2 linked regions of the Homo sapiens genome follow. The protein of the gene in region 2 purifies or fractionates together with the protein of the main gene of each other region. This does not show direct contact. Each region holds a gene or a part of one and is shown on either strand. Other genes may lie near its edges.

What was found.
Region 1: the proteins of MAB21L3 (region 2) and KCNAB1 purify together in Homo sapiens (co-immunoprecipitation; one large-scale study listed by IntAct). This does not show direct contact.

The regions. Positions count from the first base shown.
Region 1 is NC_000003.12:156,459,578-156,463,077, reverse strand, and holds part of KCNAB1 (voltage-gated potassium channel subunit beta-1), read right to left. Parts: intron 3,252-3,500; coding exon 3,207-3,251; intron 1-3,206. UniProt on the Homo sapiens protein: Regulatory subunit of the voltage-gated potassium (Kv) Shaker channels composed of pore-forming and potassium-conducting alpha subunits and of regulatory beta subunits.
Region 2 is NC_000001.11:116,117,899-116,121,398, forward strand, and holds part of MAB21L3 (protein mab-21-like 3), read left to right. Parts: intron 1-3,033; coding exon 3,034-3,174; intron 3,175-3,421; exon of another isoform or gene 3,422-3,460; intron 3,461-3,500.

The DNA of each region.
Region 1 (3,500 bases), on a different chromosome or scaffold from region 2:
CTTTGAGTGTCTTATTAAATGGAAATGTCATTTTAGGAAAACAGTCCTAAAGTCCTTAACTCAAGTTTCTACCATTTTACTGCTAGGGGAATGAAATGTGCATATCTCATCAGCAAACTTATTACCTTCTGAAAGCCACAACCAAGGGCAGGAAATGCAATCCTAGCATTATGATCATGGAATAAGAAATATGTCTTGAGAACTACAGGTATACAATAAAATTGGGAAGCAGATCTCAGTGCAATTTGGTTTCCCTCGGTATGTAATTTGATCGCACTGGTCTAGAGAAAACATCATTTGAGATTCAAAGGTTAAGGCCAATCTTCAGGAGCGCTTGAAATAAGGCGTTTATAATTCCATCATCTGTAGGGTCAACGCCTCAGGGCTCTCAGGTATAAAAACCTAGTATGATTAATGATAACCAATGGGGAATGATGGTGACAACTCTGACAACTTGGTTGCAACAAGAAAAATTTGTTGAAAATGTTAGCAGCCCCATCCCACTGAAGTGAATCCCCCCAAAAGTAATTTGAATCACTATAATGGAAGGTCGATAAATACATGTACCTGGAGATAACACAACCTGAAAGGGCTGATGTACTTTCCAGGTTAATACATCAACCTCATGATACCTATTATAATAGCAATCTGCCACAGGGGAGCCCGGTCTCCTTTAGCACTTTCAACCTTCAACAAAAAGCTGGATGGAATATTATAAAAAATGAATGCAGTCCTTTTGATTATTCAAAGCTGCATATTCTATACAAACACTGCCACAGACTTAGTTTTTCAAAGTTAGGCTTCCTGTAAAACATTTGGCCTATATGGATATGCACATTAACTATATGTTCAAAGAGCAAGAGTAGACAGCAGCCTGGCAAATTGTCACTGACTCCCACAGAGGCTATTAGAGCAACTCTTCTGAGTGGGTAGAGAATGATAATGTATTTTACAGTGATACAGCACAGCCTTCAAAATGCTTTTGCATACCTTATCTCACTCTGTCAGCATGACACTTCATGAACTGTTATGCTGTCCATTTTACAGGTGGGTAAATTGAGAATCAGAGAGGTGTAATAACTTGTCCTGGATAACACAGCTAGCAAGTGGTAGCGCCAGGACCAGAAGTCAAGTGTGCTAGTTGAAACAGCTTTTATAGGCTCAAAGCTATGATGATATGGTTTATCTTTTCACCAGTCTCACGGGGGCAACTGTGAACTGATATAAACATTATGGAGTATAATAATAGCTTGAGTTTTTATTTGCAAGAATGAAAGGCAGTTTGTGGAAAATGCATGGTGATCTATTTTCTACAAAAGGTATATAAAATAGGTTCTGCAGCTATGGAGAGTGATAATTTAATGTTCTCTGGGTGTTAAGAAAGAAAAGAGCTACTGCACCGATACTTTCCCTCCTTCCTTAGATGTACTCCAGCAGCCTACGCCTTGTTGCAGACCTCACTGTACTATTAGTGGAATTATCTCCAAGGTTTCTGTTATAATTGAAGAAGTGTGTACCCCAAAAAGATATGTTAAAGTCCTAACCCACAGAACCTCAGAATGTGAGCTTATTTGGAAATAGGATCACTGCAGATATAATTAGTTAATAGGTAGAGGAGGCCCGTAATCCAATATGACTGGTGTCTTTATCAGAAGACACTTAGACACATGAGAGAAGAGTTAAAGTGCTGCAGCTGCAGGTCAAGGAATGCCCAGGATGGCTGGCAACCACTGGAAGCTAAGAGGAAGCAAGGAAGAACTTTACCCAGAATGTCAGAGGGAGCATGGCCCTGCCAACCCTGAAGTCAAACCTTGATTTTGGATTTCTGGCCTCCAGAAACATGCAAGAATAAATTTCTGTTATTTTAAGTTACCCAGTTTCTGGTCCTTTGTTGCAGCAACCATAGCGAATGGATACAGTCTCTATTTAGGCAGTGATGGGTAAACCAATACTCTGAGTGGGAAAGTAACTCAGGCAAGGTGAAGGACTGAGTGGGAACATGAATGTTTTTCCATATATAAGGTGGAATATAGTTTTCTATTAACATCCTTACAGTTCCCTGGGATGGGGGAGAGGGAGAAGGGAGAAGGAGAAAGTAGGTCATCAAAGTTTATTTGTTCATATCTCTATAAATATTTGGTTTTCTGTTTCCACAGGGCCCTCTATTCCTACCAAAAGTTTATCTCAGAGTGGGGAGTAAGCAGCCCTAAAAATACATGGGTCTGTTTCACCTTCTTAGTTTTGCTTCCTAGAGAGAGTTTAAATCATGTGTGCAAAAGCATAATAAAACCACTCTTGAACTCTTTGAGAATGTCCATTTTCTCTAGACTAAATTTTAGAAAATACATGCTAAGTGTTGAAGCATGAGTACACAGCTCTTTCCACAGTTGTCTTCACTAATATCATTACACTGTCATTTATTTGGTAATCAGCAGATATTATGCCAGGGCAGAGGAGGACCCCAAACTTGTTCAGTAACCTTTGCTGGGCTTTGCTTAATTCTGTACTCGTGCTGGGGAAGTAGTGGCTGTTGGGGCTGAAATCTATAGTGAAATGGGGAAGTATTACCTCCCCACTGCCCATAGATGTTATAGCTTCCCTTATTACCACTATCTTTGGCTACAGGAGGTGTTGGAAAGGGACGTGTAAGCACAGCCCCTCATGTTTCTCAAGGATAGCAGATGAAGCATTGTTCTGAATAGCCAGATAATAGGGTTCCTGGGCACACAGGAGAGATGCTGACTAAATGTGTTCAGATAAGAAAGCTTTGGGGTATTTATCCCAAAGTCTTCTTGTTTCATCATTCCTTTGCATCCAGAGTTAATAAAATAAACAGCAAACATAAATGCATGTGTGTGGGGGGATAATCAGCTTCTTGTCAAGTTACTTCCTGCAAGAGATTAGCACAAATGGCAGTCAGAAGCCATGAAATTGTCACTTTTTCATGCACAAATATTTCATGAACATCCCCCCCTTCTCTGCTCAACTCTTTGGTAATTCATTGTGATCAATGACTAGTCAGTAATTTTTGAAGCTCCAGAAGTGAACTTGCCGGCATTTATTTTCAAGCCACTATAAATCATTGCTTTAAAAACAGTTGATTTTTTTTGACAGCCTTTTGGTCAGGTGTCATATAATTTTATTTTTCCTTCTCTGGTGCAAAATAATACCTTTTTAAAAACAAATAATTATGGCGAATGCAATACCTCCAGCCTTTCTTCTTGATGATGCTCCCCAGAATCACTTCAGCCCTGGAAGGGGAAACAGATAATGTCTTAGAATGCAGTGTCCTGGAAAAGCAAGAGTCAATCCAGAACACAAGAACCATTCCTTGTTTGAACTCTCAGTGCCTACATATCCCGAAAATAGAAGCCGCTCTCGGCTGGTAGCACAGTTTCCGCTGTTTCTGCTTGTGCCTGCAAAATCCTGCTCCGGAGCATTCCAGAAGCACCTGCCAAATCCTGACACGCTGGCAGGAGACCGCCTGCAGTCCTGATACT
Region 2 (3,500 bases):
CACTCAGGCCTCTGGATGTGCATGACTCCTTTTGGGTGGGAAATCCTTACAAACTGGTTTTGCTCTCTGCTACCTCTTCTTTCACCACTGACTCTTTTCTCTCAGCATTTAAACATGTTTACACCTGTGTGTCATTTTGCAAGGAAAAAAAAAACTGTTCGCATCCCTGTTGTTTTGGTTTTCCCCATGGTAAAAGTTCTTGGGGCCAGGCACGGTGGCTCACACCTGTAATCCCAGCACTTTGGGAGGCCAAGGTGGGCACAGCAAGAGGTCAGGAGATTGACACCATCCTAGCTAACATGGTGAAACCCCGTCTCTACTAAAAATACAAAAATTAGCCAGGTGTGGTGGCACGTGCCTGTAGTCCCAGCTACTCGGGAGGCTGAGGCAGGACAATCACTTGAACCGAGGAGGCAGAGTTTGCAGTGAGCCAAGGTCACACCACTGCACTCCAGCCTGGCGACAGAGCGAGAATCCATCAAAAAAAAAAAAAAATTCTTGGAGGAGTTGCTTACCTCTGTCTTCACTTGGTTTTCTTCCATTCACCCTTAATCCACATTTAATGTGCACCTCTTCCCCACCATTAATGCTAGTGCCCAGTGTTCCCCCAATGCAGCAATCCTATTCTAGCTGTCAGACTCCATGGACATTTGGGGGCCTTAACTCACTCAAGCACTTACTGTTGACTTTGTTCTTGAAATTCTTCCTTTACTTTCAGGACCTCTCACGGTTTATTCTCCCACTTCACCACCTCTTCTAGGGCAATTGTGTTCTAAAAATATCACAGGAACAATTGCACAGGCATGAGGAGCACAAATTCTCTCTTTGTGCGCCTCAGGCCTGGCTCAATACCTGCTATTTTCTCATTCTAGAACAACTTTCATGCCCCCTTTTTCCTAGCTAACGCCTAGTAAGCTTTCAAGATACAACTCCAACACACTGTGCCTCCAGAAAGGCCTCCCAACCTCCAAACTGGATGAAGTATCCGTTTTCTATGTATCCATAGCATCTGTGCAAACCTCTACCTTGCACTAGATTGCAGTGATTTTAATTTCCAGGTCATCTGTCTTGCTTTGTCAAGTTATCTATAAACCTCGTGGCAACATGTATGCACAAAGCACAGCATAAAATGGATGTTCCACTCAAATTACTCAAATGGAATTGAATCACAACACAGATGGGAAGTCCTATGCTGGAGAGGACCCTTAAGTTTTGGCTTCTAAAACCTTTATTTTTGTCATTTGTTATTTTTCCCATAATAGCATCCCACAATTGTATTCTGTGCTTACATTTGTCTTCCTCACTACTGTGAATGCATGGCCGGGTCTATCTTGTGCATTGCTGTGTTCCAGCATGTAACAGTGCCCACCACAGAGGACATGCTAAACAAATACTTACTGATGAACTGACCCTATATGTGATATACAACGTGTCTAACAATAGGTGCACAGTCACATTCTTATACTATGAACATATGAAGTTGGCTTGCTGGTTGATGAGAAGTATGAGTGAGGTCTCAGGTGACTGGCCTAGTTGATGACTTAGTTTAGGAAAACAGGAATCTCTTTGACTTGGACTTTTTTTTTCTGGCTGTCGTGATCAGTTTATGGGTGTCTCAAAATGACTCTAGAATATGTAGAAACAGCCATTATACCAAATTCAGAGAGAGTATAAAGATTCATAGATGGGCATTAGATTGAGATGTATCAGATATTGCTTGAAACTGGCCCCTGGCTGAAGGAGCCTCTGAAGGAGAGTCTTGCTGTCATGACAGCAGCTTGTAGGTGCCTCCTGAGCAAGATGACAAAGTGCCCCCTCCATTTCAGAAAAAACTTGCAGACCCTTCCGTATCTTATTTGGATTTTTCTGTGTCTCTTCTGGAGTTTACTAAAAGTTCCTTTGTGTTTCCCACAAACATCTATTTCCCTAAACTTTAAGTATCTGATTAGTGTTGAGTTTTCTATGAGAATTTCCCAATTCTTCATAACTCACTGTGGTAACTTTCTGTCAGCAGAAACATGCCTTTTCTTAAGGGTCTAGAAGCAAAAGGCAGGGGTGAGTACGGAGGCAAAGAGAACCATCATTTACTGATGACATCAGTGGGAAGCAGGCTGCTGGGTGCTGATACAAGTTAAGTGGTTTAATATTCACACCATGGGCAGCAGGCGTGACAATACCATGGTAGAGTCTCACCATGGTTCACAAAACCCTGTGTGATGATCTGGTCCCTGCTTTCCTTTCCAAACTCACCTCCTATCACTTTCCTTTTGCCAGATCCAACCACAATGGCCTCACTGCTAGCCTTAGAGCATTGCCTACGTCAGAGGAGGAACATGGAATCTGCTCTCCTAAGCTGTCTTCAGCCTCACTCAAATGTCACCTCTTTAGAGAAGTCTTCTTTGTCCATTGCCCACCCTAACTAAAATAGCTGCCCCTTTATTCTCTAGTCCCTTATCATATTTTATTTTTCTTCATGGGACTTATCATACTTGATATTACATTATACACACACACACACACACACACACACACAAACACACACACACACACATATATATATACAGGAATACATATATATACACATTTATATGTGTGTCTGTGTGTATAATATCAGATATGACACTATATATTATAATATTGATATTATACATTACAATTATATATAATATAGTATGTATTATATCTACATTTATTCCTATATTTTCAGCTAGAGGGCAAGTATCTACATTGTTCACTGTTGTCTTAATCACTGTTGTGTCCCCAGCACCCAGCCTGGCACCTGCTACATAGTAGGTCCTAGATAAATATCAAATGAATGCATCTGTTACAGAAAAGAACATTGAGGCACCACCAAGTGTCTTCTCAATGGAGTCAGACCTAAATTCATCTCCCCGGCATCTTGGGAAGGCAGGATTTTTGAGCTGAACTCCCTCAGTCACCCCTTGCTGTACCCTTGTCTCCTCACTCTCTTATGCTGGTATCTTGGGGCCCACAGAGGAAATAACCACCATTGCTGGTCCCTCTCACACCCAGGTGGACTTGAGGCGCCAGCAGATTTCCCAGGCTGTGGAGGAGGTGCAGAAAGTCGTTCATCATTTGACCACAAACATCAGCAACCAAGACATTAGATTTCAAGCTGTGCCTTACTCTGACACGTACAATGAAAATATTAAGGTAAGCAAGTCTTGCTGTCTCTAAGTGCCACCAACAGAGCCAGGACACTTGGGCAGGTGAATCTCAGTGTGTGACAGATGCTTGCCTCACTCAGAATACTCATAACAATTCTTGTTTTCATAGGTATTCTTAGTTTTTACTATTTACAGTCTCATTTTATACATGTCATTTCAGCCAGCAGGGTGCCTTATGCCTATAATCCCAGCTCTTTGGGAGGCCAAGGTGGGAGGATGGCTTGAGGCCAAGAGTTTGAGACCAGCCTGGGCAATGTAGTGAGATTCTGTCTCTATAGAAAAAGAAAAAAAGATAGATGTTATTTCCTTTGA